Regions from separate parts of the Homo sapiens genome. Here all the other regions are linked to region 1. Evidence: fine-mapped expression QTL. A gene starts in region 1. Each other region holds a variant in brackets. All regions are shown on one strand. Distances are from middle to middle.

Evidence for each region. PIP is the estimated chance that this variant, and not a neighbour inherited with it, causes the effect.
Region 2: its variant is fine-mapped to the expression of TUBGCP2 in whole blood (INTERVAL, PIP above 0.99).
Region 3: its variant is fine-mapped to the expression of TUBGCP2 in whole blood (TOPMed, PIP above 0.99).
Region 4: its variant is fine-mapped to the expression of TUBGCP2 in whole blood (TOPMed, PIP above 0.99).
Region 5: its variant is fine-mapped to the expression of TUBGCP2 in whole blood (TOPMed, PIP above 0.99).
Region 6: its variant is fine-mapped to the expression of TUBGCP2 in whole blood (TOPMed, PIP above 0.99).
Region 7: its variant is fine-mapped to the expression of TUBGCP2 in whole blood (TOPMed, PIP above 0.99).

Annotation. Positions count from the first base shown.
Region 1 is chr10:133,306,479-133,310,587 of GRCh38, reverse strand. It overlaps TUBGCP2 (tubulin gamma complex component 2), which reads left to right and starts at 1,716. Exons shown (of 18, transcript NM_006659.4): 1 at 1,716-1,765. It overlaps ZNF511-PRAP1 (ZNF511-PRAP1 readthrough), which reads right to left and starts at 1,674. Exons shown (of 9, transcript NM_001396060.1): 1 at 1,492-1,674; 2 at 1,125-1,198; 3 at 611-812; 4 at 300-424. The coding sequence starts at 1,644. ZNF511 (zinc finger protein 511) reads right to left here and starts at 1,674. Exons shown (of 6, transcript NM_145806.4): 1 at 1,492-1,674; 2 at 1,125-1,198; 3 at 611-812; 4 at 300-424. The coding sequence starts at 1,644. RefSeq lists enhancers at 1,189-1,483, 891-1,586, 2,310-2,539 and a silencer at 1,230-2,079.
Region 2 is chr10:133,238,520-133,242,628 of GRCh38, reverse strand. It overlaps VENTX (VENT homeobox), which reads right to left. Exons shown (of 3, transcript NM_014468.4): 2 at 2,793-2,953; 3 at 701-2,697. The coding sequence ends at 2,323. Among named protein-coding and RNA genes, the nearest start is that of VENTX, 2.7 kb to the right of the region's middle. RefSeq lists an enhancer at 3,987-4,109. The variant G/T (reference allele first, on the strand shown) is at 2,412.
Region 3 is chr10:133,360,689-133,364,797 of GRCh38, reverse strand. It overlaps ECHS1 (enoyl-CoA hydratase, short chain 1), which reads left to right. Exons shown (of 8, transcript NM_004092.4): 7 at 73-140; 8 at 1,865-2,313. The coding sequence ends at 1,930. Among named protein-coding and RNA genes, the nearest start is that of FUOM, 4.7 kb to the right of the region's middle. The variant G/A (reference allele first, on the strand shown) is at 2,060.
Region 4 is chr10:133,185,740-133,189,848 of GRCh38, reverse strand. KNDC1 (kinase non-catalytic C-lobe domain containing 1) reads right to left here. Exons shown (of 30, transcript NM_152643.8): 6 at 3,175-3,875; 7 at 1,196-1,310; 8 at 180-251; 9 at 36-97. Among named protein-coding and RNA genes, the nearest start is that of KNDC1, 28 kb to the right of the region's middle. The variant C/G (reference allele first, on the strand shown) is at 2,380.
Region 5 is chr10:133,374,722-133,378,817 of GRCh38, reverse strand. It overlaps LOC124902563 (a long non-coding RNA gene), which reads left to right. Exons shown (of 2, transcript XR_007062395.1): 1 at 1-2,158; 2 at 3,612-4,082. Among named protein-coding and RNA genes, the nearest start is that of PAOX, 2.5 kb to the left of the region's middle. RefSeq lists an enhancer at 1-463. The variant C/A (reference allele first, on the strand shown) is at 2,505.
Region 6 is chr10:133,333,026-133,337,134 of GRCh38, reverse strand. The region is part of intron 5 of ZNF511-PRAP1 (ZNF511-PRAP1 readthrough); the gene reads right to left. CALY (calcyon neuron specific vesicular protein) reads left to right here and starts at 239. Exons shown (of 6, transcript NM_015722.4): 1 at 239-301. RefSeq lists an enhancer at 1,309-1,984. The variant T/C (reference allele first, on the strand shown) is at 2,073.
Region 7 is chr10:133,265,289-133,269,397 of GRCh38, reverse strand. ADAM8 (ADAM metallopeptidase domain 8) reads left to right here. Exons shown (of 23, transcript NM_001109.5): 19 at 536-650; 20 at 1,280-1,469; 21 at 1,981-2,046. Among named protein-coding and RNA genes, the nearest start is that of ADAM8, 9.5 kb to the left of the region's middle. The variant T/G (reference allele first, on the strand shown) is at 2,076.

The DNA of each region.
Region 1 (4,109 bases):
TGGCCCAGAGGGGTGTGAGTGCGGAGGCGCTGCGCCCGCTCATTCCCACACCCCCTCTGCTGCCTCCACCGGCACAGAGCTGGGCAGCCAGGGGCTCCCCTCCAGCCTCCCTTCGGCAGGGTGGCCGCTGGCACAACCACCTGTAGCTGTGTTGCCAGGGCTTCAGGTACCTGCAGGTGAACACCCCATTAGGTGACACACAAGTGCTTAATAAGTCTGACCGTCTATGCATTCCGGCTAGTTGGAAACCTTTTCCTAAAATCAAAAGCAGACACGTGCTGAGCCTGGCGGCTCCCTACCTTCTGCTTTTCTTTGGCTTATCAAACCGGAAGTCCGCGGGGTACAGGTGCATCCTCACCATGTGATCCTTCCGGTCTCTGCTGGTCTTGAACTTCTCTGTGCAGCCTTCTACCAAGCACTGATACTGAAATGGAGACCGTGTCACCTCCCTCTGACCCCTGGCCCTCCCCCACCGCCATGCCCCCGTAGCAGAGCTGCCAAGGGCGGAAAGGTGTCCCCGGCCTTGCCCGAGCACCCGAGAGCTGGGGGCAGCACTCTGAGCCCATCACCAATGGGGGGTGGCCTCGGCGGCTGTGCAGTTGTCACCCACCATGTCCTGCCTCTCAGACAGGATCTGGAAGAGCGAATCGTGCCACTCCAGGATGTGGGCGTCCAGCAGGTGTCCGGAAGGGAAGGCCCGCTTGCAAAAGGAGCAAACATTTCCGTGCAGCGTGTGGTAGTGGTGCTCGTAGTCGTCCAGGGCATCGAACACCTGGCAGCAGCCGGCCACCTGGCAGGCAAACGCGGGCACCCTGCCAAGGAGACGTGCTTCAGGAGCCCTTCCTCCGGTGCGAGGAACCAAGCTGGACTTTCTGCACAGTTTCCCTTTGAGACGTCCAATAAAGCCCCTATGCATCTTTTGCAATCCCAAACCCTCTTTTTATGAATTAAGTTTCACAAACAGGCTAGGTGGTGGAAGAGTCGGCCACGCCAAAGCTGGACAGGCACAGCGCCTCGGTGGGGCGGCCGCACATGGAAGAGCGGCAGCACAGCCCCAGGGACCAGGCACCGGTCAGGGAGGCGGCGCAGGAGTAGCACTGGCTAGGCACTGCCCATTCGCTTACCTGGGCTTCTCAGGCACGTCGGCCACCTGCATGATCACGTCCTGGAGGTAGAGGTGGCGCTGCACGTCCCCATCCTGCAGGAAAAGTGCGCCGTGGGCGGGGCCAGGTGACTCGCGGCACGCCCACCGCGTCAGGCCTCGCCCACACCCGTGGCCCCAGTCATCCCGCGCTCCGGTCCCGCCCCACAGCCTCAGGCCCCGCCCACTCCACGTTCCGGCCCCGCCCCACCACCTCAGGTCCCGCCTGTCCCAGGCTCCGGCCCCGCCCCGCAGTCGTAGGCCCCTCCCACTCCAGGCTCCGGCCCCGCCTCGCCGCCGTAGGCCCCACTGGATCCTACAACTACTTTTTCCCTCTTTTGCTCACGCACCTCGAAGAACTGGTGCTCCCGCGGGAAGCGCACGGGGCGCGCAACGAAGCGAAAGGGCGCGGCCCCAGCCGCGGGATCCCGCTCTACAGGCAGCGGCTCCGCCGCCCCGGGCCCCGCAGCGAGGCGGGCGCACAGCGCGGGGGGCAACTGCATCACCCCGGGCGCGGGCGGGCGCAGCCTGTCGGCCACCGTCCGCGAGCCGAGCCGGACGTGACGTCACGCTCACTTCCGCCGCCGTCGGGGGCTGCGCGGGGGCTGTGGCTCCGGGACTGCGGTGAGTCCTGGCCGAACGCGGGCGCGGGCGTGATGAGGGGGTTGGGGGACTGCCAGGCCCGGGGGGGCCCACGAGGCGACGGGGCTGGCGGGACGCGGCTCTTCCCGCGCGCTCCCTCTGGCTGTGCAGCGGTCCCCGAACTCTGGGGCCGAAGCCCTTCGGGCCTGCACCGGCCAGGCCAGCGTCTTGCCCCGCGGCCCGACACTCAGCCGGGGCGGGGCGGAGCGGGCCTCCGGGTCGTCCCGGGTGTCCCCTCCCAGCCCTGGGAAGCCGGGTCGCAGGTCCCCCTCTCGCACGCCCTCTCCCGTCCGCCTTGCCCCGCCTGTCGTCTCCCGCTGCAGTCCCTGGATCTTGTTCCCTCTAAACCAGTCGCGAACTGGAGCCAAAGTGACTCCAGTTTTATTGTAACCGTTTTTAATTTAAAGCCCTTGGGTGACTTCCCGTTACTTTAGTTCAAAGGCCCTTTCCTGGTTTGTCGGGGTCCTGTCGACCTCTCCAGTCCCCGCAGCTCCCGTGAAACACAGGACCTGTGCTAGGTGCTCAGGGCGTGTGGGGGAAGGCATCACAGGAGGGCGCGGCAGCCTTGTAGGAGAGACAGACGTCAGAGTAAAGAGTCACCTAATTAAAATGGTGAATGACAACACACGCGGGAAGCAGTGGACGCTTCAGATCTACTGCAGAGAATGGGCCCAGTGGCGGATAGAGGCTTTAGCTTTCTCGTCTGTCACCCAGGCTGGAGTGCAATGGTGCGATCATAGCTGATAGATCGCTGCGGCCTCAAATTCTTGGGCTCAAGTGGTCCTGCTGCCTCAGCGTTCCAAAGAGCTGTAACTGCAGGCGTGAGCCACCATGCCTGCCCCTGTACTTTTTCCATGTTTAGATACACAAATATCTCTGTGTTACAGTTGTCTAGTGTTCAGCACCGCCACCTGCTGGGCAGGTTTGTAGCCCACGAGCAAGAGGCTCCTCTAGGTGGTTTAGGTGCATTGTAGGCCGTACACCATCCAGGTCTGCGAGTGACTCTGATGATCGCACAGAAGGAAATCATGTAACCATACGTTTCTCTTTTTTTCTTTTGGAGATAGTGTCTCTCTCTGTCGCTCAGGCTGGAGTGCAGTGGCGCGATCTGGGCTCACTGCAACCTCTGCCTGCTGGGTTCAAGCGATTCTCGTGCCTCAGCTTCCCAAGTAGCTGGGATTACAAGTGTGCGCCACCAGGCTTGGCCAATTTTTGTATTTTTGGTAGAGACTGGTTTTCACCATGTTGGCCAGGCATTTCTCAGAATGTTGAGTGATGCATGACTGTACTTTCTGTCTCTGTAAAAGCCTTTGGGCTCTTGACATTTTCCACAAGTTGTAAAATAACATTTTTCAAACCAATTTGTACAGTTAGCTTTGAGCTCTCAACAGAGACTCTTTTTCACGTCCCTCTGTGTTTTAATCACTTGGAGTGTGTGCTCACTAGGAGTGTGTGCCCCGCTTGTCCGTGGTGGAGTGTGACATGCGTGCATTGCTTCCCTCAGCACGCGTCCCTGCGGTAGCTCACAGCCTCTGTGAGGAGGACGTCAGTCCCTCCCAGTCACAGTTGCTGGGCCTGTCAGTTTGTGTGATTAATAGTAAGAATTCAGGAGCATCAAGAAGGCCAAGTCAGCGGCCATGGCTAGACGTTCCTCCAAGAAGCAGCCACGGCTAGATGTTCCTCAGAGCTGTGTTTTCAGTGGGACGCTGTGCATTTCTGGCGGGACAGCTCTGTTGATGATTAGCATCCCCCGCCCTTGCCCTCTAAGTAGCGAGAGCACCCTTCCATGACCGTGACACCCCAGAGTTGCCCTAGGACTTTTCCAAAGGTCTTCTGGGGGGAGGGACTCTGTGCGAGTACGGGCTGCCCTCTTGGAGGCCCGGTCCCCACATTCAGGGAGAGCAGCAGGCTCCTCATGGGATGAACACTCATGACGTGCGGGCATCTGTGCTTCTATTTCTAGAAGAGATACGAAGTTTCCTGAAGGTAGTTTTTATTTTTTTTATTATTATTTTTTGAGACAGAGTCTCGCTCTGTTGCCCAGGCTGGAATGCAGTGGTGTGATCTTGGCTCACTGCAAGCTCCGCCTCTCGGGTTCATGCCATTCTCCTGCCCCAGCCTCTGGAGTATCTGCGACTACAAGCGCCCGCCACCACCCCCGGCTAATTTTTTTGTATTTTTAGTAGAGATGGGGTTTCACCATGTTAGCCAGGATGGTCTCGATCTCCTGACCTCATGATCCGCCCACCTTGGCTTCCCAAAGTGCTGAGATTACAGGCGTGAGCCACCGTGCCCAGCATGTAGTTTTTAAATAAATACTCAGATG
Region 2 (4,109 bases), 68 kb after region 1:
AGGAGCAGAGGACTTGCCAAACTCTGGGACTGACGTCCAGCTGTCAGCCAGAGGACCCCAGAAGAGAGTGGGAAACAGGCTGCGGGGATGTGAGGAAGGTCCCCAGGGGAGAGCGGAAACAGGCTGTGGGGATGTGAGGAAGGCCCCCAGGGGAGAGCGGAAACAGGCTGAGGCCAGCGGAGTGGTCACTGCATCCCGGCCAGCTGTGACGCAGCAGGTGGGTGGAGTAGGGCTTGGGGGCATCTTGGTCTTCAAGGTCCACCCAGATACCAGCAGCCCATGAGGCCTGGGCCAACTCACTCTGCAGCCCCGGATGGGGGACAGGGAGAGAAGTTTGGAAGTCGTGGGTGGCAGAGCCTTCCCTGGGCCTGAGGGCCTTGTGGATCCCCCAGAACTCAGGGTCTAGGTCCCTGCTGGACACTTGGAGCCCGCCCCACTCCTCAGCCTCCGGGACTTTGCCCTTTTCCAGAGCTCCTCATCTGCAGGATGGAGCCAGGGCCCTAAGGAGGCCCAGGTGTGCCTCCGAACAGGCACAGCTCAGCCCCAAGGGGCTGCCCACCTTGTAGGGCCCAGTGTGCTGGCAGGACCTCGAGACACCACCAGGCCAGGGCCCTTACTCACCGGGAGAGTTCAGGACCAAGACGGTGTGGTTTGTGGCCTGGGGCCACACAGGGGACCAGAAAGCAATCTCCACGGGCGGTGAGGGGCACTTGTACTTTTATCACGGACAACGTGCCCCCATCCACATCCACAAATCAGTGCTGTCCAGGCCAAACCCAGTAGTCCCTGTCCAGCTGCTGCCCTCCGAGGGCCTCGCCCAGGCTTCTGTCACATTGTCACTCGCCAGGACGATGTACAGCAGCTGTTCCCCTCTTACCTGACGTTTAAAAGCACATGCCAGTTGTAAACACTTACAACAAGGGAGAAACGAGCAAGGGGAAAGTGAAACTCGCTGGGGACGCAGCCGCAGGACCACGCTTCTGTTCCTGTTGGGGTGCCCGGGTGGGTTTCACAGGTCGCCTCCAGTTCTGCAGGCTGAACCCGTCTGCCTGGGCACCCCGCACTGCCTGCCTCCTGGGCACTCTGGGGCGACATGGAAGGAATTGCACTTGTCTCAGGTTTCATGCACGCAGTCAGGAGTCTGCACCAAGAACGGTCCATCAACGCGGGAGTCCTCCCCGGGAGGGGCTTCCGTGCCTCCCATTCTGGGCACTTCCAGACCTTCTGCAAGAAGTGCTGTCCTTGAGTCATTGTTTTGTCCCGAGGCTGCTGCGAGCAGGGGGACAGGTGAGCACGTGTTGGAGGGTGGGGACCTGCGGGACAGCTTCAGTCCAGGCACAGCCGCAGGTCCCGGCTGCCCTGCTTTCCCTGGCCCAAGAAGAGCAGCCCTCAGCAAGCTGTGGGTACAGTCCCGGCTCACGCACAGCCTAGAGCGCACTGCAGGGCCCCAGCATCCTCGCCTTCATGTTCACCTTTGTTCCCTCCTGCTTTCCAGCTTTGGAGTTCTTGTTAAGAGGGACTTGAACCACAACGCTATAAACACACCTGCATTCCCTGTTTTCTTTTGTACACACAAAGCTTACAACCTTTACTGTTTCCAACTGGAAAACCAGTTTTTCCAACCCCTTTTAAAAAACAAATGATCCTTTTATCGTACGCCGAAAGCCCTACCCATGACAAGCCCACTTCTGCATTTGACTCTGTTCACTGACCCTTCGTTTCCTTCCTAAACCGACTCTTTCGGTAACTTTCAGTGAAGAGGTGGCTTTAATAAATATATTCTCAGGGCCGGGTGCAGTGGCTCATGCCTGTAATCCCAGCACTTTGGGAGGCCGAGGCGGGCGGATCACAGGGTCAGGAGTTTGAGACCAGCCTGGCTAACATGGTGAAACCCCATTTCTACTAAAAATAGAAAAAATTAGCCGGGCGTGGTGGCGGGTGTCTGTAATCCCAGCTACTCGGGAGGCTGAGGCTGGAGAATCGCTTGAACCCAGGAGGCGGAGGTTGCAGTGAGCCGAGATTGCGTCATTGCACTCCAGCCTGGGTGACAGAGCAACACTCCGTCTCAAAAAAAAAAAAAAAAAAAAAAATATATATATATATACACACACATATGTATATATATATTTATATATACGTATATGTGTATTTACATATATACGTACATATATATATTTATATATATTCTCCAGTAATCTCCAGAACCTTTGTGTGGGTCAGGGTGAGAGGTGCCACCAGGATGTAAACAGAACAACTGAGTCCTCCAGGTAGGAGCCAGGTGCGATCAGCAAGACCGCGAGTGTGGGAGTCAGAGGTGCCTCCTCAAAATGCATCCCCCGTCTGTGGCATAGCACACAGGCCCCGGGGCCCCGTGGACAGGGCTGGTCCCAGCGAAGGCCGGCCTGGGGTAG[G/T]GGGGTGGGACGCCAGAGGCTGCCCGCAGCAGGAAGCTCCCGCAGATGCCAGGGCCTCTTGTGCCACTTGGCAGAGACCCCAGAAGGAGCCAGGGGGCAGCATCAGAGCCTGGGGCCCGGACAGGGGTGCCCAAGGGCACAGCAGCTGCAGGCCATTGGCAAGGCCAGAAGACGTTGAGTAGAAAGCTGGGGGCGCATGGAGAGACCCCGAGAAGGGGCTGTGCAGCTGGGGGTCCTGCATTTGCCGTTTGTGTTTCATGCGGCGATTCTGAAACCAGGTTTTTATCTGTAGGAAAAGCAAGATCAGAACAGGGGTGAGACTAGGCCACCAGCCCACCCTTGCCCACCCCTGCCCACCCCAGCCTGCCCGGCCCACCTCACCTGGACCTCTGAGAGCTGCATCTCCCTGGCCAGCCTCTTCCGCTCCAGAGGGCTCAGGTACTGGTGGTGCTGGAAGACGCCCTCCAAGGTGCGGACCTGCTCCATGGTGAAGGCTGTGCGGACACGGGGGGCCCGCAAGGTATTTGGCTCCTTACTCAACCCTGACATAGAGGGTAAGGGCATTTGGCTCAACATGCCACCCCATGGGGCAAGCTCGTGCCCACGGGTAACAGGTGAAGACAGCCATGCTGGGGGCTGGGCAGGGCAGATCTTCTCACCTGACAGTGACCAGCAGCACCCCCGCCGCCTCCCAGGTCACATGCGGAAAGGGGGCTCAGAGAGGGGGCTCAAGAGGGGAGGGAATGTTAACAGCAGCTTGGGCCTGCCCTCCGCTCAGTCCACTCAGTTCCGCCCCATCCCACACTTCCCTTCCAGAAGCCGGTTCCCAGGATGCCCTTCCCACAGCCTTCCAGGCCGGTAAGGTAAGAATCCATTATATGCAAAGGCCTGGCGACCCACCCAGGGGCACCCATCCCTGTCCCGGGCTCCGTCTCCTCAGCCAGCGGAGGCCAACTCAGTTAATCCCCAGGCCCACTGTGGTCAAGTCTGTTTCCTAATTTCTAAGTTAAGGAATGGGGGCTGGCACCAAACGGCCCCACGAGGTGGTCTGTGGAGCTGGGTCTGGGTCCCAGGAAAGGCCAACGTGGCCAATCGAGCTCGACATTAAATGCAAGTCTGACCAAAATGCTCGCTGGAGTTTCTGCGGAAGGAAGCGTATTTTACAAAATCTGTCTTAACGTTAGCCTGAAAGCACATGGTAGACCCAAAAAGCAAATGCCTTCTGGCAGGGAGGGCTGTAGGACTGGCATCAGAAAGGGGGTTGCGGGACAGGGATGGCTGGCTTTTTTGGGGTGGGGCAGGATAGCTAGCTGGGGAGAATACATTTAAATTTTCATTTCCCTTAAGTACAAAGTCACTCCATAAGGATCAGTCAAATTTTTAAAAATGAAAACTTGTAGATGATGTCAACCCCACTTTTGACCAAGTACTACCTTAAACCTAAAAGTGGTGATGATGTCACAAAGACTAAAACACAAACGCAGAGAACCTTTGTTCTCAGCAGACAACAGAGCATCTGGGCGGCCACAGAGGGAACTTCAGAGTTTCTGCAGGCATCGGGGTCACCGCCACCCCTGCAGCGAACCTGCAGGCTCTTTAAAGACAGCTGTGCTCCAGGTGACCCGGAATGGGCTTGAGCCTAGACGCTGAGCAGGCACCGGCTGTGCTGGGGGGCGGGGGCGGGGGGCTTGGCAAATC
Region 3 (4,109 bases), 54 kb before region 1:
CTTCCTGTCACCGTGCAGGAAAAGTTCTGCATGTAATATCTCCGTTCATAACTCTGGGACTTTGTTTTTCAGCTTTTGAAATGACATTAACAGAAGGAAGTAAGTTGGAGAAGAAACTCTTTTATTCAACCTTTGCCACTGTGAGTAAACAGTGTTCAACCGGAGAATCAAGCAAATTCCAGTCACACAAGTTGCTGGGAATTTCCTTTTAAATTTTATCATTAAGTATCGTTTCTTTCTGGTCAGAACTGCCAGCCTCACCTTTAACGGGATCAGATTGGTTCCATCAGTGGGTCTTGATGTTAGGAAAAAAGTAGAGCATGTACAAGTTCAAAAGTACAGAAACCTTACAGGGGCTTTTCTTGTTTTTCCTGTTATGTGAGGTCTGTGAATTGCACCCTCAAGCAGCTCCTTTATTGAAAATGCAGTTTCAGCCGGGTGGGTGTCGAGCATCCGTAGCCCCAGCTTCCTGGGAGGCTGAGGCGGGTCGTTCGAGTCCAACTGGGCAGCAAAGCAAGACCCCGTCTCAAAAAAAAGACTTTTTTAAAAAATGAGGCCGGGCGCGGTGGCTCACCCTGTAATCCCAGCACTTTGGGAGGCTGAGGCGGGTGGATTGCCTGAGCTCAGGAGTTTGAAACCAGCCTGGGCAACATGACGAAACCCGTCTCTACTAAAAATCCAAAAAATTAGCCGGGCGTGGTGGCAGGTGCCTGTAATCCCAGCTACTCTGGAAGTTGAGGCAGGAGAATCGCTTGAACCCAGAGGCGGAGATTACAGTGAGCCGAGATCACGCCACTGCACTCCAGCCTGGGAGACAGAGTGAGACTCTGTCTGAAAAAAAAAATGTAACTCATTTTACCCATGTTTTTTTAGATCATTCCAATTATTTGGAATAGGCTCAAATGTATTCTAATAAGATAAGCTGAAGCTTTAGAGCAATATTTTATAAGATTTCTGCCAGTAACTTAAAGTAATTCCTCTAATTACCATCATAATTTTAATTTTCTTCCCTTTGAGGCAGAGTCTTGCTCGGTCGTCCAGGCTGGAATGCAGTGGTGAGATCTCAGCTCACTGCAACCTCCACCTCCTGGGTTCAAGTGATTCTCCTGCTTCAGCCTCCCGAGTAGCTGGGATTACAGGTGCCCACCACCACACCTGGCTAATTTTTGTATTTTTAGTAGAGACAGAGTTTCACCATGTTGGCCAGGCTGGTCTTGAACTCCTGACCTCAAGTGATCTGCCTGCCTCGGCCTCCCACAGTGCTGGGATTATAGGCGTGAGCCACTGCACCCGGCCAGATTACCATTTTAATTCATGTCTTTCACTGGGAGAAAGTCATACTTCGGTGTTTTAATTGTTCTATAAAATAAAAATTAAAAGTGGTTTGGGCACCTGAGGAAGGGGTACAGATGCGTGTGTGTGTGTGTGTGTGTGTGTGTGTGCGCGCGCGCACACCTGGGGACACACGTGCACACAGTGTAAGAAAAGCAGATGCAGAGTTGAGTTCTCACGTCCTACTCCAACACAGAGTAGCCCCTGATACAGGCCACCCATCATCCAGTTGATGACATGGTGAGTGACCAAGATGGGTGCATCTGAGGCTCTTTAGATGTGAGCTTGTTGGACATACACAGTGGCTCCTGAATGACCGTCACCTAGACTGGTAGAGAGAGGCCGTGAAAATCCCCGCGCCCAGGCCCAGCTCTGATTGGGCAGGTGTTCCTGCCGCTGAGTCCCCTCCCCGGCCCCCTGGGCCCCTGTGAGCATGAGTGAGGCAGAGCCAGGGAGAGACGGGCGGACATTGGCATCAGGCTCTGTGAGGATACTGCGCGTCCAGCTCTGTTTCTGTTCCTTTTCCTGCCAGGATGACCGGAAAGAAGGGATGACCGCGTTTGTGGAAAAGAGAAAGGCCAACTTCAAAGACCAGTGAGAACCAGCTGCCCCTGCTTCACACCTCTGCTTGGAGAGGACAAGTGCAGCCTGTCAGTTTTAGAAGCAAGTAAATCATCCTCTTTTCAAGAGCAGTGTCCGTGGTGTGCAGTTCCTCTCCAATTGCTGC[G/A]TGGTCGTGGCCCGACCTCTCACGGCATGACAGCCTTCGTCACCCAGCCTGTGAGGGTCCTGACTGGAGCACCTTCTAAATCTAAGATTCTGCTGAGGAGCCCCCGCTGGTCCCTCTGGGCATGCTGTGCTCGGACGGAAAGCGGGGCCTGCGGGTCCTTGTGTCCCTGCCGCTGAAGAATGGGGCTGCTCTGAGGGAAACGCTGTCTGCTGCCTTCATACAGATGCTGATTAAAGTGATAGCGATTCAGATTACACCACGCCTTGTAGTCATGTCTGCAATGAGCATTCTGTCATGTTAGTTGTTTTTTTAAACTTTTTTGTTTTTTCACTGTAAGGAACAACATTCAAACAAAACAAGTTTGTATAGTCAGTTGCCTCACATCATACTTCCAGGGTAGCCACTGTGAACAGCTGGGCTTGTGACTTCCTAGAGTTCTGTGCACGCACCCACACACCCCTGCACACGGGCACAGGCATGGTCTATGGTTTTCTTCCACGCCCACTCACGTCGAGCCCTTTCCTCACGAGAGCCCACCCTATTTTCTTCCTACTTCTGTCATAAGGAGCTCTCTGTTCAGTTTACTGCATTCTTCTCTACTGTGGGAACACACGACGTCAACTTGATCATCTTAACCACTGTGTTTTAGAGACGGGCTGGAGTGCGTGGCTCAGTCACAGCTCACTGCAGCTTGAATCTCCTGGGCTCAAGTGATCCTCCCCCCCTCCCAAGTAGCTGGGACCACAGGGGCGCACTCCCACACCCAGCTGACTGTTTAAATTTACCTTTTGTAGAGACGGGGTTTCCCCGTGTTGCCCAGGCTGGTCTGAACCATTTCAAATGCACATTTCAGCGGCATTAAGTACGTTCTCGTTGTGCAGCCATGACTATCCAAGAAAGCTTTCATTTTCCCAAACGGAAACTGTCCCCGTTAAACAACAACCCCTTTTCTGCTTCCCTCCAGCTCCTGGCACCCACGCTTCTACTTCCTGTCTCTATGGAGGGACCTCCATTTATCCCTTTGGGTCAGGCTCATTTCACTCAGCCCCACCCCAAATCCCTGGGTTGAAATCCTAACCCCTACCGTGACTGCATTAGGAGGGGGGACTTTGGGCAATGACTAGTCACAAGGGCAGAGCTCTTCGAGTGGGTTTAGTGTCCTAGGAGAGAGAGGGTGGAGCTCCTCCAGTGGGATTAGTGCCCTATGAGGGGGCGGAGCTCCTCCAGTGGGATTAGTGCCCTATGAGGGCAGAGCTCTTCAAGTGGGATTAGTGCCCTATGAGGGGGCAGAGCTCTTTGGGATTAGTGCCCTGTGAGAGGGCGGAGCTCTTTGAGTGGGATTAGTGCCCTATGAGAGGGCGGAGCTCCTTCAGTGGGATTAATGCCCTAAGAGAAGGCAGAGCTCTTCCAGTGGGATTAGTGCCCTATGAGAGGATGGAGCTCTTCCAGTGAGATTAGTGCCCTATGAGAGGGCGGAGCTCCTCCAGTGGGATTACTGCCCTATGAGAAGATGGAGCTCTTTGAGTGGGATTAGTGCCCTATGAGAGGGCGGAGCTCCTCCAGTGGGATTAGTGCCCTATGAGGGGGCGGAGCTCCTCCAGTGGGATTACTGCCCTTAGGAGAGCCCTGAGGGCACTCTTTCACCCCTCCCACAATGTGAGTGCTCTGTGGGAAGGTGCTGTCTGTAAACCAGGGTGGGCCTCATCACACACCGAACCTGCCTGGAGCCTTGGCCTCCAGAACTGTGGAAAGTCAGTGTTTATCAGCCACCCAGACCATGCCACTGCATCACAGCAGCCCAAGCTAAGGCACATACTGTCCAGAAGGTTTGTGCCTGTTGTGGCATGTTTCACCATTTGATTTTCTCACTAAATGACAGTCCTATAACATTCTTTTTAGTGGCCCTGACGTTTCATACTATGGACATGTCATCATGCCCTTGGTTCTAGGTATTTCCCCCAGGGAAGCCCACCTGCCCCCAGCTCAGTGCAGACGCCAGAGAGCGTTTGCCGGTGTCTCCTCCACTTGGCCCCGCAGCTCAGTGTGCGTA
Region 4 (4,109 bases), 120 kb after region 1:
GCAGGGCTGGGGCAGGGTGGGGAGGGCCCGGGTACCTTTTCAGTTACCAGCCTCTCCTCTGCCAGCTCGGGAGCCAGAAAGAACGAGTCATAGGAACCTAAGAGAGAAACCCGACTGAGCTTTCCTCACCCCTGGCGAGCCGGTGCTGGACTCGGCCTGAGGGGAACCCACACACTCACCGTTGGCAGGGGGTGGCTGGAAGAGCACAGCCCCGTCCTCAGCAACCAGCACGGAGTCCAGACACAGGTAGGCTGTGGCAGAGCTTGGGTCAGGGCGGGTATGCATGCTGCCCCGCACTTGGGGCTGGCTGGGGGGAAGGAGCTGCGGAGCCTCAGTCAGGCCGGGCAGCCCCCCAGCCTCCCCATTGCACGGGCACGCACCTGCCAGTGCACGCACATGGCCTGACCCCAGCCCCCGGGGTCCTCGGAGCTGCCTCCTCCCAGCCCTCCCCGAGGGTAGCGCTGCCCCAGCCGACACAGTGGCTGCAGCGGCATATCTGCGGCTGAAAGGGAGCCAAGCGGCAGGGAGAACACGGTAACTTGAAGCCCCCGTGTCACAGGCCCCGTCCCGAGTCAGGGCCCACGGGGCAGCCACGGGCTCACGGTGGACGGACACTGGAGCCGGGTGTGTCTCCGATGGCCTCTCCCCCAGCCCTTTCAGATGCTGCCCTCATCACCCCCAGGACGTTTTTACGTCTCAGATGCACCGTCCGTCTGCCCTGATGTCTGGCAGGGCTAGGCTTTGACGGGGCAGACCCGTGCAATGCTGAAGATTCCCTCCCCACTCCAAAGCCAATTGCTGCCTCCCTGGGGACAATGTCACTGTGTTGAGAATGTGTGGGCGAGGGCCATGGCAAAGTCCCCGTTCCTCTTTACGGCACAGTCACCGGTTTCAAGGCCCACCTTGCAGGCATCTGTCCCCACACCTCCCTCGGTGCTGCAACCCAGCAGGCACCCACAAGGTGCTCCAGACGGGAGCCGCCTGTTCCGTTCACCGGAGACACTGTCCTGGCTGCCCCTGGGTCCCTTGGTTCAGGTGGGGGCCAGTTACGCATGGGACGGCAGGGGTGATGGGACAGTGGGGGGGCGTGGGACGGTGTGGGGGGTGGGACGGCGGGGGTGTGGGACGGCGGTGGGGGGTGGAACAGCAGTGGGGGGTGGGGACGGCGGGGGGGATGGGATGGTGCGTGCGTCACCTGGGTGCTCAGGGCGTGTCTGCAGTGCGCGGAGGCAGGCCAGGCACAGGGCCCACAGCTCGTACTCCCGGAAGGGCCGGCCCAGCTGGGACAGGAGGTCCTGCAGGGACACCCACTGTGGGCAGGAGAGCGGCGAGGTCAGTGTGGACACCCCTTGCCAGGGCCCGCCGCCTGGAGAGGCATGTCCGGGGGACAGGCCAGGGTGAGGCCCACTCAGCCCCTGAGTAGGCGCCCCCCACACCTGATAGAAGGGCTAGGGAGGTCCCTAAGTCAACTCCAGCGTGTGGGGGCCGTGGGGAGACTGGGGCCCTTGGCCCTGTGGGTGGGAACGTCCCACGGTGCAGCCACTGCAGACGACAGTGCTGCCGTTCCTTGAAAAGCTCAACATACACCTCCCAGGTGACAGCAGTTCCACACGGCCACATTCCCCGAGGAACCGAGGGCAGGGCTCACGCATACGTGCACACCCATGTTCCCAGCAGCACGGCTCGAAATAGCCAACACGGGGAGCACCCAGGCATCCACGGACGGACGCAGGGGCAGTGTGGATGGCGCTTGGCCTCGGGACAGGGATGGGGGGTTCTCACGCAGGCTCCCTGGGGAGGAACCGTGAGGACAGTGGGCTCAGTGAAGAGACCAGACACACAGCTCTGTCCATCCCACTCCCACGAGGCCCCTGGACAGAGCTCATGGAGGGGAAGGGTGGGACGGGGTGCAGGGGCCAGGCTCATGGAGGTGGAGGGCGGGACGGGGTGCAGGGGGCGGGCTCGGGGGTTGGGGTTTCGTGTGGGCTGATGGGGACAGCTGTGCAACAGCGTGAACACACCCAATGCCGCTGAGCTGTGCTCTTGCAGAGGGTTGAAGTGGTGGCTTTTGTTCGGTGCATTTTCTCACATACACACACACCGTGACACCAGGCATGCGTTCAGCCTGGGAGGCCACTCTCCACTCCAAGGCCTCACGGACAGCTGGGACCAAAGTCCACCCTCCAACAGGTGGCTCGGCCACCCTGTGCCTCCGTGTGCCCTTCGGGAAGGTAGGCTGTTGTGCGTGGGAAGGCGTGCCGCCAGGGAGAGTGGTGGAGGGCGACGGGGCACTGCGCCCTTGTCCTTCAGATCAACGAGGCCTGGTGGCTTGAGGGCACCCCCGTCCCCGGGCCAGGCGCTGCCTGGCAGATGGACTTG[C/G]ATGCAGGCCACTGACTTCAGGTGACCTTGCCCGGAGGAGCTCACGGGGACACAGCTGGGGGTGGCTCACTGAGGAGCCAAGGAGGGCAAAATGCACTTGGCCAGGCCTTGGCCCAAGCGTCTTCGGCTGGACAGAGGGGCCGACGGACCAGGCCCCCCAGAACACTGGCTCCAACAGCATCCTCCATCCCTCGTGAGGAGCAGCTGACCAGGGGCAGCACTGGGCTGGGGAGGCCCCATCCTGTGTGGAGGCCACGTCCGGGCAGCCGCACCAGATCCCAGCGTCCCCGCGGAGGCAGCGGAGGTGGCCCAGCACCGACACCACCAAGCCCCACAGATGAGCAAGCTCAACCCACAGCTTTGGTTTCTAACTTTTAAACCGTCAGAATAGGAAGATGAGGAGGGCTGTGAGCATCAGGACTGGGGACACGGAGCCCCTGAAATGACATCACGGAGCCGGGGCTGCTGGCCTTGCTTCCCGGAAGAAAATTAATCCCTCGGGACGGCCGTGCGGGGCTGTGTGAGGAGCCGGGCAGGGCTGAGGAGGCGGCTGCTTTCTGGGTCATCCAGAGGCAAACGTCTACCCGAGAGGCCACGCCTGGGTGACAGCATCCCCAGCCGCAGCCACAGCTTCCTTCAGAAACGGGGCAGCTCAATGAAAATGTCTTTAATTATGGAGCGAGGGTGAAGGTTAATTCTCTGAGTTAAACAAAGCGTTTGCATCTGTGGAGAGGCCCGGCCCCGGACTCACTGACCGCCGACCCCTCCACCCACACACAAGACCCAGGCACCCACCTGCTCCGCGGCTGCACTTTCCAGCTGCCTAGCTCCTTCTGGAATTCTCTCATCGTCCCTGGGAGTCTGGGCTTCACCGCTAGCATCTCGAGGGTCTGCAGGGGCCTCTGCTGGCCCCTGGCTGGGGTGTGAAGTCTCGGGCTGTCCTGGACTGCCGGGCACCCCAGGGCCCCTGTCCGTGCTGCGGCCTGCACAGGGAACCCGTCCCAGCTGGTGTTCCGGCTCCTGCTCCGGCCACAGCCTGCATTTGGGCTGAGCCTGGAAGCTAGAAAGGCCATTTTTCCTGTCCAGAAAGGCCTTCCTGGGGTCCGGAGAGAATAATTCCGATATGGGCAGCTGGCTTTTCCCGCGGGTCAGCGGCAGGCAGAGGGTGGCCTCGGGGCTGTCGGACAGCAGCCTAGGGAACGTCTGCACCTTCCGCAGGCGGCTTCTCCTGAGGGCGTCTCTGTCCAGCTCCCCGAGGGTGCGCTCGGCATCCAGGACGAGGCCGGCCAGCCCCTCCCGGCTGTGGCTCTCGCCATTTCTCACCGGGGTGGACAGCAGAGCCTTGGTTGGGGAGGCTCTGGGGCCCCGGCTCGTCTCAGACTCCGGGCCTTCGGGGGTCGGCAGAACCTCCGGGTCAGTGCTGGGGTCCCCGGGCGGCCTCCTGGGCCCAGCGTTTCCTGGGGCAGGTCTCTCCCGCCAGCTGCTCTCGCTGACATCTGGGCACAAGCAAGATGTGGTCACGGCTGGGTGCCCCTCCCGCCCCTCCCCTCTCCTCCCGCCCCTCCCCTCTCCTCCCACCCCTCCCCTCTCCTCCCACCCCTCCCCTCCCACCTCTCCCCTCCCCTCCCCTCTCCTCCCCTCCCACGATCACAGACCCCAACCCAGGCTCTCACAGGAGGGGGCTCCCGCCTTCCTCTCCTGCCCCACTCATCAGGTCATCCTGGCTAATT
Region 5 (4,096 bases), 68 kb before region 1:
CGCTTCCCCCAGGGACCCGCGTCGAGTGCGAGGGCGCAGTGGGTCTGGGGGTGCCACGGTGTCAGGGGTGGGACCTGGGAGAGCTTAACGCGTCCGGAGGGGGGCTGTGAAAGCCTCCAGCATCGCCAGCGAGCCGTCAGTTCGCGTGTGCGCGCGCCTGCGTGTGCGCGTGTAGTCACAGGGCTGCAGGGACACAGGACCAAAGTACAAAGTACACTCGCAAAGTACAAAGTTCAGAAGCCGAGGGCAAGTGCAGAAACGTCCCTCGCCCGGGAAGTTGAGCGCACACCCAGGCACGCCTGTGTTTCTGGAGAATCCCCGGTGCAGGCGGCCGAGTTTTCTGCTGCATCGCAGCCCGCGGGGGTTGGAAAGGCTCCCGCCCTGTTTTCAGGCGCGTCCCCGCCTCCTGAGCCCCGGTCCTCTGCCGAGGGGCCGCGCGCTCCAGTTTGCCAGCGTGAGCTTCACTCTTCGCTCTCGGCGTGGGCCTCCTGAGCCGTGTCTTACTTTCCTTTGATTCCCTCTCGTCCCAGCTGGAGAAAAGGCTCCCGGAAGGGTGACCTGGTGTCGCTGGATTCCACTCCCCATCACTCCCTAGCCAACCCCGCGAGCTGAGCTCCAGGCAGGGAGAGGGGCGGGTGCCTGGGAGTCGGGCTGACTCCCTGGGCGGTGGCGGGCAGGGGTCGAGCGTCCTCTGTCCGTCAGGGGCCCGCAGCACCAGGAGGCGACGCTGGATGCAGTGGCCATCTCCTCCTGCCTCCAGGCCATGGGGAACCCAGGGCGGATCCCGGGTCAGCAGGGCCAGCTGTCCACCAAGCTGACCCACCCGACATGCCAGGACTAAGGAAAGAAGGGCTGCCCCACACCCTTAGTCGGATGGCAAGTGTTTGGGGTGCAGCCCCCGCCACGAGTGTCACCTGTTCTGCCTGAGCAGGCTTCTCTCTTACTCCCTGCTCTTGGGCCTGAAGCAGAGCCGCTGGCTCAGTGGGGCGCTCCATTCTGAGGTCCCTGGCATGCACCACGGAAGCCCAGCGGGACCACCCACCCACCTGCCCCAGCTCCCCAGCGGAGGTCCTGAGATGGCAGATTAAATACTCTGGGGTTCTGAATTCCACAGATGAACTGGGTCCCCCACGGGTATGGCCAAGGGAACGGCCCACTCCCTAGTGGCTCCGTGTGAAATCGAGCTGCTGCTGCTCTCGCCGCAGGGCCCAGCTCACTGCCCAGACATAGGAGCACATCGCCCTGCGCACAGGCTGGGTGGGCACAGCTGTGAGGGAGGCCACCCCATGCCTCAGGCCTCCTGCACAGGCGTGGGCCTCGCCACTCTGGGTGGACAGGCTACTTTGGCCCCTCAGCCTCTGGGGACTGCTGCCCTGTTTTCAGCACCGTGTCAGGCACCATCTGGTCAGCCAGCTCCTCCAGCCCCGAGACTCCCGTGTCCTCATTCTCCTGGGCCGTTACGGTCGGCCAGTGCCCAGCCTTTGCTGGAAGGCTGTCCAGGCTGGGCTCTGGTCAGGCATCGATGTCCCCCAGGCACCTGGCCTCACCTCGCGTTGGGACAGCCTCTGCAAGATGGAACAGGAAGGGTCTGGCTTTGCCTCTGTCACCTTCTCCCGGTCCATCATGTCCTCCTGGCCAGCCCGTTCCTGGTTCCTGCGGGGAGCCCAGCCCGAAGGGGAACCGAAAGATTCTAACTTAACTCTAGTTCAGCCTCCCGGATCCTCCTGTGGAGCGGCAGGATCCCATAAAAGATACTTGGCTCAGCAACTTGCTGGCCAAGCCTCCCCACAGCGGTCCACACAGGCCAGAGGTAAACATGCCCATGCCCCACACCTGGAAGGCCTGGTGCAAGGAGGGGTGATTGTAGTGACTGAAATGGGAACTCTGGCTTTATGGCGCGGAGAGAGAAGACATGGACCCAAGAGCTGCAGGGTGGGGACAACCGACGCGCTCTTTGTCCCCTGGATGTGGTGCCACAGCCTGAATCCAATAGCACGGGCCGCTGACGCGCTGACCTGGGGCTGGGTTAGTCGCTCGTCCCCCTTGCTCTGAAATGGAGAGTGCACGTGACCACGGCCAGTCCTGGACAATCCTGCCATGCCAGAGCCACCAGCTGGAACACACGGACACAACCTCTTTTCCATCTGACTGGTACAAGGTATGTGCTTCTCCTAGCTCCAGAGGGCCTTGGGTGATGCCACCTATGGTGATCAAGGTGGCAACTACCCATGTGGCTTTGACTGAATCAGGCTTGTTCATTTTTTAAAATAGCTTTATTGATATAGACATCATGCTGTAAGACTTCTCCCGTTTAAAGTGTTCAATTCAATGGTGTTCAGTTTAGTTACAGAGTTGTGCCACTGTCACCATCATCCAGTTTAGAACTTTTTTGTTTTGTTTTGTTTTTTTGAGATGGAGTCTTGCTCTGTTGCCCAGGCTGGAGTGCAGTGACACTACCTTGGCTCACTGCAACCTCTGCCTTCCAAGTTCAAGCAATTCTCCTG[C/A]CTCAGCCTCCTGAGTAGCTGGGATTATAGGCATGTGCCACTACGCCCGGCTAATTTTTGTATTTTTAGTAGAGACGGAGTTTCACCATGTTGGACCAGGCTGGTCTCGAACACCTGACCTCAGGTGATCCACCTGCCTTGGCCTCCCAAAGTGCTGGGATTACAGGCGTGAACCACTGCGCCTGGCCCCAAGTTTAGGACATTTTCATCACCCTAAAAAGCAAATGGGGATGCCCCTCAGCAGTCCCCCCCATTACCCCTCCCTCCAGCCCCTGGTGACCGCTAATCTAGTTTCTGTCTCTGTGGATTTGCCTGTTCTGTACATTTCATAGAAATGGAACCTATTCAATGCACGGCCTTTGTGTCTGGCTTTTTTTACTGAGCATAACATTTCCAAGGCTTGTCCATTTTGTAATGTGTATCAGCGCTTCTTTCTTTTTTACTCCTGAATAGAGTCCATTGTATAGTCTAATACATTCTAATGTATCCATTGTTTGGATATATGACATTTTGTTTATCCATTCATGAGTTGATGGACAATTGGCTTTTTCCCTCTTTTTGGCTATTATGAATAATGTTGCTATGAACGTTCATGTCTAAGTTTTTGTGGACATTTGTCTTCATTTCTCTGAGGTGTACACCTAAGAGTGGAGTTGCTGTTTGACCTTTTGAGGAAACAACAGACTGTTTTCCAAAGTGACTGCACCATTTTCCATTCCCGCTGGCAGTGTACCAGCGTTCCCCGCTCACGTCCCCCACAACCCGCTGTGACTGTTGGGCTTTTTATTGCAGCCAGCACAGTAGGTGTGACGTCGTATCACTGAGGGGTCAGTTTGCATTTCCCTAATGATTCGTGATGCTGAGCTTATCTGACACTGATTATCTTCATTGGAGGAATGTCTGTTCAGTCCTCTCACTATCTTGGTAGTGTCCTTTCAGACATAAAAGTTTTAAATTTTGGTGAAATCCAATTTACATATGTTCTCCCTTTGTTGCTTGTGCTTTTGTGGCTACATTACTTGATGGAGGACGGGAGCTGCCCGGCCTCCTGGGTCGTTAGAAAGGAAACCTCTTGGCGGACACGGTGGTCCACTCCTGTAATTCCAGCACTTTGCGAGGCCGAGACCGGTGGATCACTTGAGGTCAGGAGTTCGAGAACAGCCTGGCCAACATGGCAAAACTCCCGACTCTACTAAAAAACTACAAATATTAGCCGGGCATGGTGGTAAGCACCCGTAGTTCCAGCTACTCAGGAGGCTGAGGCAGGAGAATCGCTTGAACCCGGGAGGCGCAAGCTATGATGAGCCGGGATGACACCACTGCACTCCAGCCTGGGTGACAGCGAGACAAGAAAGAAAGGAAAGAAGAGAAGGTGAAGGAGAAGGAAGGAAGGAAATAAACCTCTTTTCTGTCTGAGCCATTTCATTTTGGGCCTGTCTGTCCCAGAGGTTTAACTACACTAGTATAGAGCATCGTTTACTAAAGGTTTGTTGAGGTTTGTTGTTGATTTGTTTCTACTTACACGAGATGTCTTCATTTTTACCCTCGGTCTTGAAATAAAATTTTGGTGCATGTTCATTTTTGGTTTGAAT
Region 6 (4,109 bases), 27 kb before region 1:
GGGATGTGTCAGGTGTGTGTGCATCAGGTGTGTGTATGAGGTGTGTGGTGAGGCCCGAGCAGGGTCTGAGGGGCGCATGCGCGGCTCCCTAGCCGGGGCGGTGGGTGGGGGTAGAGGGTGCGGGACCAGAGTCGAGGCCCCGCCTCTAGCCGCGTTTCCATGGCGACCACAGCCTCGGTCTCGCAGCTGCAGCCCCCGCCCCGCCCGGCCGCGAAGCGTCTGGAACCGCATCCTCCGCATCCACATCCGCATCGTCGTCCTCCCCGACCGCGTCCTGCAGCAGCTGCCAGTGGAGCCGCCTGTGAGCTATTTCCACATTTCTTGCAGAATGTGGGCGGGGGGCCCGAAGGGGTGCGGGGGTGCGAGGCGCGTGTGCGGGTGTGTGTGCGAGGTGCGTGTGCTCGCGAGTGCGCTTGTGCGTGGCGCGCGTGCGGATGAGGGTGTGAGTGCGTGTGTGCGAGGCGCGTGTGCGGGTGCGAGTGTGCAGGGCGCGCTGCACGGCCGCCCTCCTCCCTCGGGCCTCCTCTGGCTGCCCCAGGCCAGTCCGACCCCGCGGACCCGAGGGCGGTGGTCTCCAGGCTTCCCGTGACGGCGGGGCCCCGGCACGAGGATCGCAGCCTGGAGTTAAGGGTGTCTCCGAGGTGGGGAGGGGGTACCAGTCCCAGCTCCCGCCCAGCTCTGTCCGCCGGAGGCGGGGTGGGGAGGGCGACAGAAGGGGCGTCGGACCAGAGCACCGAGGAGCCGCTGCCCGCACGGGGGTTGGGGGTGGGCGGTGGGCTTGATGGGGGCGTCTGCGTGACAGGCAAGAGGTGGCCAGGAGGCCGGGAGGGGCGCGGCTCCGGAACCACCTGCAGCAGGCTCGGGTGCGGGGCCACAGGTGGCTGGGCTGGAAGCGGGAGCAGCTGCGCGCCCACTCCCCTCCGAGGGGCTGCGCCGACCCCGCAGTGCAGCTGCCTTTTAATAAGCGGGGCAGCCACAGCCCCCTGCAGCGCCAGGGGCGGGAGGCTGCGGTGGCGCCCGCGGGGGCTGGGCGGGACCCTCAGATCCGCAGTCACACGCGCTGGTGCCCGGCCCGCACAAGCCCACCTGCGCGCACCCCCCAGCGTGACGCAGCATTCCATGGTTGGGGGGGGCGCATGCGGAAGCGAGTCTGTGACGTGACCTCCAGCCGAGCTTCCGTGGACTTTCGACTGAGAGCCTGCACCCCCGCCCCCGCCATCCATCTGTCCATCTGCACGGCCTCACTCACCCGCGCCCCCACCCATCTGCCATCAGCATCCCACGCCTTCCCCGCCCCAGAGACAGGAGCCGGGCACTGCCTCCCTGCCAGAGCGCGGCGGGTGGGGCGCAGGGGACCCGCAGAAGATGCCGCGACAGCGCAGGTGCAGGGAGGGGCCGGGAGGAGAAGCAGAGGCGGCCCCCCAGTTCCACGAGCCGCGTGTCATCCGTGGGAGGAGGCCCCCATGACGCAGCAATGCAAAGGGAAGGTCTGGTGTGTGGGGTGGGGGGGTTGGACCCCACACACAGGCTAGTCCCCCCTTTCCAACCCCGCATTCCGCCCGGGGCGCTGGGCCCGGAACCAGAAGCGAGGCTCCAGTGGGCCCCCAATGGCTTTTTCTTCCTGAAGACGCGTCTCGGGCCTGTCTGCGTTGCCATGGAAACCCGCGATGACGTAAATTGGCCGTCCGAGGAGTTGGATTTGAAGTTTGGCTCGAAGGGGACCCCTCAAGCGCAGCTCCTCCTGGCGGGGGTCCTGCCCGAGCGGGGGTTCGGGCGGAGACTCCTGGCGCGGGCCCTCCGGGGCGTGGCCCTACCCTATGGCGCTGCGGGCCCTGGTGCGGGACTGCGCCCCCTTCTCCGCCTCCCCCTCGCCCGTCTGTAGAGAGGCTGGGCTTGCTCTGGGCGTCCGCTCCGGGGAGACCCCCGACCCCTCCTCCTCAGCGGCACCCCCACCCCCGCGGGCCAAGCTCCACCTCAAGCCCCGGCGCTGGCTGCCCTCGCCCCACAACCACGTCATTCCCCGGCCTCTCGGCCCTCCGCTGCTCCGACTCTGCTTCCACCGATCGCTCCTG[T/C]ATCTGAGCCCCGTGGCGCCTCGTCCGTCTCCGCCTGCACACACACGGACGCTGGCTGCACCGTGAAACCTCGCCCGCCGAGTGCCCATTGCCCCTGCCCGGGCCACGTGGGAACCCACCTCAGGAAGAGTCTTCAGCCCGGGGTGGGTGGTCTGGGGGACACCGCACGGCCTCTTCCAGAAAGGCCCGGCAGGCACAGGGTCGCCTGCGATGAACACACAACAACGAGGGGCACGGGTTAGGGCCCCAAAGCGCGTGGCCAGGTCCAGGACTGGGGGCCCTGTCTCCCCTCGCCTAGCTCCTTCCGGCTCAGAGTGGCCTCCCCCATCCCCTACCCAGCCCTCGTTCACCGGCCGCACTCTCGCCCACGCAGATCCTTCCCCCTCAGTTCTTTCCCCACGCAGAAGCTGCCACCTCCAAATCCTTCCTCCCCTGATCCTTCCCCCTTCAGATCCTTCGCCCCTCAGATCCTTCTCCCTCATGTCCTTCCCCCTCAGAGCCTCCCCCTCAGAGCCTTCCCCCCTCAGAGCCTTCCCCGCTCAGATCCTTCGCCCCTCAGATCCTTCCCCTCATGTCCTTCCCCTTCAGAGCCTCCCCTTCAGAGTCTTCCCCCCTCAGAGCCTTCCCCGCTCAGATCCTTCCCCCCTCAGATCCTTCGCCTTTCAGATCCTTCCCCCTCATGTCCTTCCCCCCTCAGAGCCTTCCCCCCTCAGAGCCTTCCCCCCTCAGAGCCTTCCCCGCTCAGATCCTTCCCCCCTCAGATCCTTCGCCTTTCAGATCCTTCCCCCTCATGTCCTTCCCCCCTCAGAGCCTTCCCCCCTCAGAGCCTTCCCCGCTCAGATCCTTCCCCCCTCAGATCCTTCGCCTTTCAGATCCTTCCCCCTCATGTCCTTCCCCCCTCAGAGCTTCCCCTTCAGAGCCTTCCCCCCTCAGAGCCTTCCCCCCTCAGATCCTTCGCCCCTCAGATCCTTCCCCCTCATGTCCTTCCCCCCTCAGAGCCTTCCCCCCTCAGAGCCTTCCCCGCTCAGATCCTTCCCCCCTCAGATCCTTCGCCTTTCAGATCCTTCCCCCTCATGTCCTTCCCCCCTCAGAGCCTCCCCTTCAGAGCCTTCCCCCCTCAGAGCCTTCCCCGCTCAGATCCTTCCCCCCTCAGAGCTTCCCCTTCAGAGCCTTCCCCCCTCAGAGCCTTCCCCCCTCAGATCCTTCCCCCCTCAGAGCCTTCCCCCCTCAGATCCTTCCCCCCTCAGAGCCTTCCCCCCTCAGATCCTTCCCCCCTCAGAGCCTTCCCCCCTCAGATCCTTCCCCCCTCAGAGCCTTCCACTCTCAGATCTTTCCCCCTCAGAGCCTTCCACTCTCAGATCTTTCTTTCCCCCTCAGAGCCTTCCACTCTCAGATCTTTCCGCCTCAGAGCCTTCCACTCTCAGATCTTTCCCCCTCAGAGCCCTCCCTCTCAGATACCTCCGCTCTCCGACCCTTCCCACCTGGGATCCTACCCCACTTGGATCGTTCCCCAAGTCGGATTCTTCCCCCCTCAGATCCTTCCACCCTCGGATCCCTCCCCCTGCGTCGGATCCTTCCCCCCGCGTCATATCCTTACCCCTTCGGATCCCTCCCCGCACCCCGTTGGGGTCCCTTCCCTTCAGATCGTTCCACCCTCGGACCCCTCCGCTCGGATCCCTCCCCTCCACCCCACCCCCACCCGCGCAATCCTTCCCCGTTGGGTCCCTCTGTCCTTGGATCCCTCACCCCTCGGATCCTTCCCCCCCCCCCACCCCCTCAATCCTTCTCCCTCGGATCCTTCCACCTTGCAATCATTCCACCCTCAGCTCCTTCCACCCTTAGATTCTCCTCCACGCAGATGCCTCCACATTATCTGTACTTGAGTGGCAGCAGCTGGGCAGAAGCTCTGTGACCGCGGGTCCCTTGCTCCTGTTCCCGTGGTGCCTACCCACACCTGGAACCCACAGCGGAGCCTGGCCACTGCAGGGCGAGAAAGACTGGTCACTGCTGGCTCTGGCAGTTAATTGGACATCCTCG
Region 7 (4,109 bases), 41 kb after region 1:
GGGCCCGAACAGAGCCCAGGCAGAAGCCGCGGGCCCGGGAAGCTGGTGGTGTTCACGGTGCCAGTTTGCTGCCACAGGCATCGACACACAGGTATAGGCAGAGCCTGTCTGTCCCCAGGCTGATGTGAGGAGGGGAGAGCCCTGTCCCAGAGGGAGGCAGTGGCCGAGGGCAGGGCACGGCCGTGAGCTGAGACTCCAGTGTCCTCAGCCTGTGTCTTCCAGCCCCTCCTCGGCCCGGGGCCCTGAGGCCACCCAGCATTTCCTCCCCGGCGGCCACTGAGCATGTGGTCGTCCAGAGCATCAGGCCTCAAAGGCACAGCCGTGCCCACAGCACTGTGGCCCAGGGCCACCCTGCCAAGCTCTCCAACCTGTCACTGGCAAGCTGGGAGTGCCAGTGTAAGGTACCAGGTCCTCCCTGAGGGGTCCACAGGGCACAGCCTGGGGGTGCTGAGAAAGACCGTGTCTCTGGGAACCTCCCTGGCTCCTGCCTGAGGTCGCGGCCTGCCTGCCTGATGTGGGGCCGTGTGTCCCACAGCGTCCGGGAGCCTCCCCGTCTTCGTGGTGGTGGTTCTGGTGCTCCTGGCAGTTGTGCTGGTCACCCTGGCAGGCATCATCGTCTACCGCAAAGCCCGGAGCCGCATCCTGAGCAGGTGAGGGTGGTGGGGGCTGTGACGGAGGGTGGCGAGTGCTTCCCGTGCTCAGCTGCCAGAGGAAGGAGTGCCCAGCACGGGCCCATGGTGGACGGCACGGACACCCAGGCTCCTCTGTGCCCCGACGTCATGACGCCCCCCGGCTTGGGCTGAGTTTGAAGGGCCTTCCTGGCTCCACTCGGCCAGTGCCACTCTGGACTCCACCTTCCCCTGAGGCTGGGGCGGGGCATGGTTTTGGTGGCCGGTTGGGCTTGGGGCAAATCCAGAGAGGCCCGGTGGGGTCCCCCATACCCTGACCCAGCCCCGTGAGCACCCTGCCAGTTTCCTGCTGAGCCCTGCTCTAGGGACCTGGACCCCCACACAGCAGGAGACCCCCACGCAGCAGGACACACTGGCCCCACAGCCTCCAAGCATCTCCCGCCCACCTGACTGGGGCCCCCAGGACATGGAGGGGGTGTCCCTGCCTCTTCAGGGTCCGCCCCACCTCCTGGGCCTGTCTGTCTCTCATGGCCACAACCTCTCGCCCTGAAGCCTCTCGGGTCGGCTGGAGCTGGGAGGGAGAGACTCGGGGTGTGGTGCTGGGGCCCCATGGCCGGACACTGACCATGCGCCCTGTGCTTCCTCCCCAGGAACGTGGCTCCCAAGACCACAATGGGGCGCTCCAACCCCCTGTTCCACCAGGCTGCCAGCCGCGTGCCGGCCAAGGGCGGGGCTCCAGCCCCATCCAGGGGCCCCCAAGAGCTGGTCCCCACCACCCACCCGGGCCAGCCCGCCCGACACCCGGCCTCCTCGGTGGCTCTGAAGAGGCCGCCCCCTGCTGTAAGCACCACCCCTGGCGGGTTCATGAGGCCGAAAGCAGTGCCCAGGCCCCATCCTGCGACCCCAAGTGCAGCCCGAGGCCAGCAGAGCCCTTTCATTAAATTCACGCACAGGCCAGCGGTGGCCCCGAGGCCCAGAGCAGCTGCTGTGGTCGCCCTGCTGGGAACACTGAGGCTTTGGGAGTGGGCACTTCCCAGACCCCTTTGAGCCATGATAGAATCTGAGCTTGAACTTAAACTTGGGGGCTCCCAGCCCAGGGAAGCTTCCTGGCCTCCACAGAGCCCATCTGAGGACAGTGTCGAGACACAAATGCTCTCCGGCCCCCAGCTCGGGATCACACGGCTGAGGGGAGGAATGGGGCGGGGCCTCTCATCTGGGGTGGGGCCCTGTGGGCCGCGCAGACGCCTCCAGCACACACAAGAGGCAGGAACCTCGGATCCTGGAGCTGGGGGTGCTGGAGGGGCACGGGGGTCCCAGCTCTGACCCAGGCTCTCGGCCCTGTCTCCTCCAGCCTCCGGTCACTGTGTCCAGCCCACCCTTCCCAGTTCCTGTCTACACCCGGCAGGCACCAAAGCAGGTGAGCAGTGGTGATTGGGCGGCCAAGCC[T/G]TCTGAGGGTGTCCAGGCCTTCCTGATGGGATTGGGGTCTGTGCACTGCACCGGGGGCCAGGGATCCCCAGGTGGCCCCTGCTGTACACAGAAGGCTGGTTAGCCCGACCTCGTGAGGACATCAGACAGAAAGGCAGGTCAGCGAGGCCACAGGAAGGCAGGAGCTCAGTCCTGCCCTGCGTTGGAGCTGGTTTGGGGGTCCTGGCTCCTTCTCCTTCCACTCAGACCTGCTCCGCCCACCAAGCCCCTCCCAGAGCTGAAGCTCTGGCAGAGAAGAGGACTCCCTGGGGCCCTGCAGGACAGATGGGTGGGTGGGCTCAGGGCAGGGACACGTTCCGCGCTTCCCTTGGGTTTGGGGGCTTTGGGGGTTTTGGAAAGATCTCTCAAAACCCGAATCACTGGAGCCCTGGCATGCTGAGGGTTAACTCCCAGGCCTCCGTGTCCCCCCAGGGTTGGGGTCCTGTCCCTGCGCCCTGGCTCCCACCTCTGGGCTAACCTTGGAGCCCTTTTTGGACCCCGTGGGGGCAGCTCATTGGCCTCAGCCCTGGGAAACCGCTCTGGCAGTGGGTGGAGAAGGACCCTTGAGCTCCCTTCCTGGGGCCACTGACTCAGCTAGGGCAGCAGAAAGGGCCAGGCTTTCTCTCTGGGGCCTGGCACGGGGCCCCAGTGGTACCATCGAGGTCCACTTGGCATTGCGGGACATTGTGAGCAGCCTCTGTCCTCAGAGAGGGCAGGACGGTGGCGGGCAGGCTGGGGCTGGGGAGGTGCCTGTGTGAAGAGGTCCCACGGTGCATCTCCGGGGACCCCCTCCACAGAGGTTCGTGGTCAGCCCTAGGACTGGGCTGTGCATGGAAGACCTGGGGCAGGAGAGCCCCTGCCCTCTGGGTTGAGGCTTTTTTTTTGTTAACATTTAATTTTGAACAAATTTTAGACTTACAGAAAAGTTGCAAAAATAGCCTAGAGAATCCTGCATGCCCTTCGCCTGGCCTGCTCCCGAATGGCCACAGTGTGGGCGCGCAGCCGAGGCTCCACGTCACCAATGCGACCCAGTCAGTACCGCCTGCTCCCTCTGGACGCCCTTCTCCAGCCATGGTCCCCCCAGGCACTCAGCCCCCGGCCCCTCTGCCTTTCCTCAGCTTGCCCTTTGGAAGTGTGGCCAGCAGTGTTTTCAGAGTCCCTCAGCCTGGGTTTGTCCCGTCTTTCCTTGTGTGGATGAGGGCCCTGCACTGTTGGCGGGGGCAGCACTGGACACACCCTTCCCCAGGCACAGCCCAGGCCTGGCCCACATGCAGCTTCGGTCACGGGGGATGTTGACACAGCGCCTAGTTGGAGCAGCGTCCACAGATTTTTCCTTAGAAAGCTCCTGTCTTCTTTTTATAGTGAGCAGATGCCTCAGGGAGATACCTTGAGACTCTTTGAACCTTAAGCTTGGACCCACTAGTTTTGGCATCCATTGGTGAATATTGGCTGCAATAGTTGTTCTGTGCTGTTTGCCTAATAGTGATTTTCTCTCTTTTTTTTTTTTGAGATGGAGTCTCGTTCTGTCGCCCAGGCTGGAGTGCAGTGGCGCGATCTCAGCTCACTGCAATCTCCGCCTCTCAGGTTCATGCCATTCTCCTGCCTCAGCCTCCCAATGTATCTGAGACTACAGGTGCCCGCGACCATGCCTGGCTAAATTTTTGTATTTTTTTTTTCAGTAGAGACGGGGTTTCACTGTGTTAGCCAAGATGGTCTTGATCTCTTGACCTCGTAATCTGCCTGCCTTGGCCTCCCAAAGTGCTGGGATTACAGACGTGAGCCACCATGCCCGGCCCTAATAGTGATTTTCTATTTCTCTCTTTCCTTTTTAACTTTTTATTTGAACTAACTTCAGACTTGTACGTGAGTTGCAGAAATAGTCCTAGAAGGGGTCTGGACAGGCAAAATGGGGGCCTGAAGGGGGCAGAGAGATTTCTGGCCAAGGAAGTTATGGTTACCAGGCATAGCAGTATATGGGGCAGAGGCTGCAGCAGGAGCCGGGCGTGGTGGTAGATG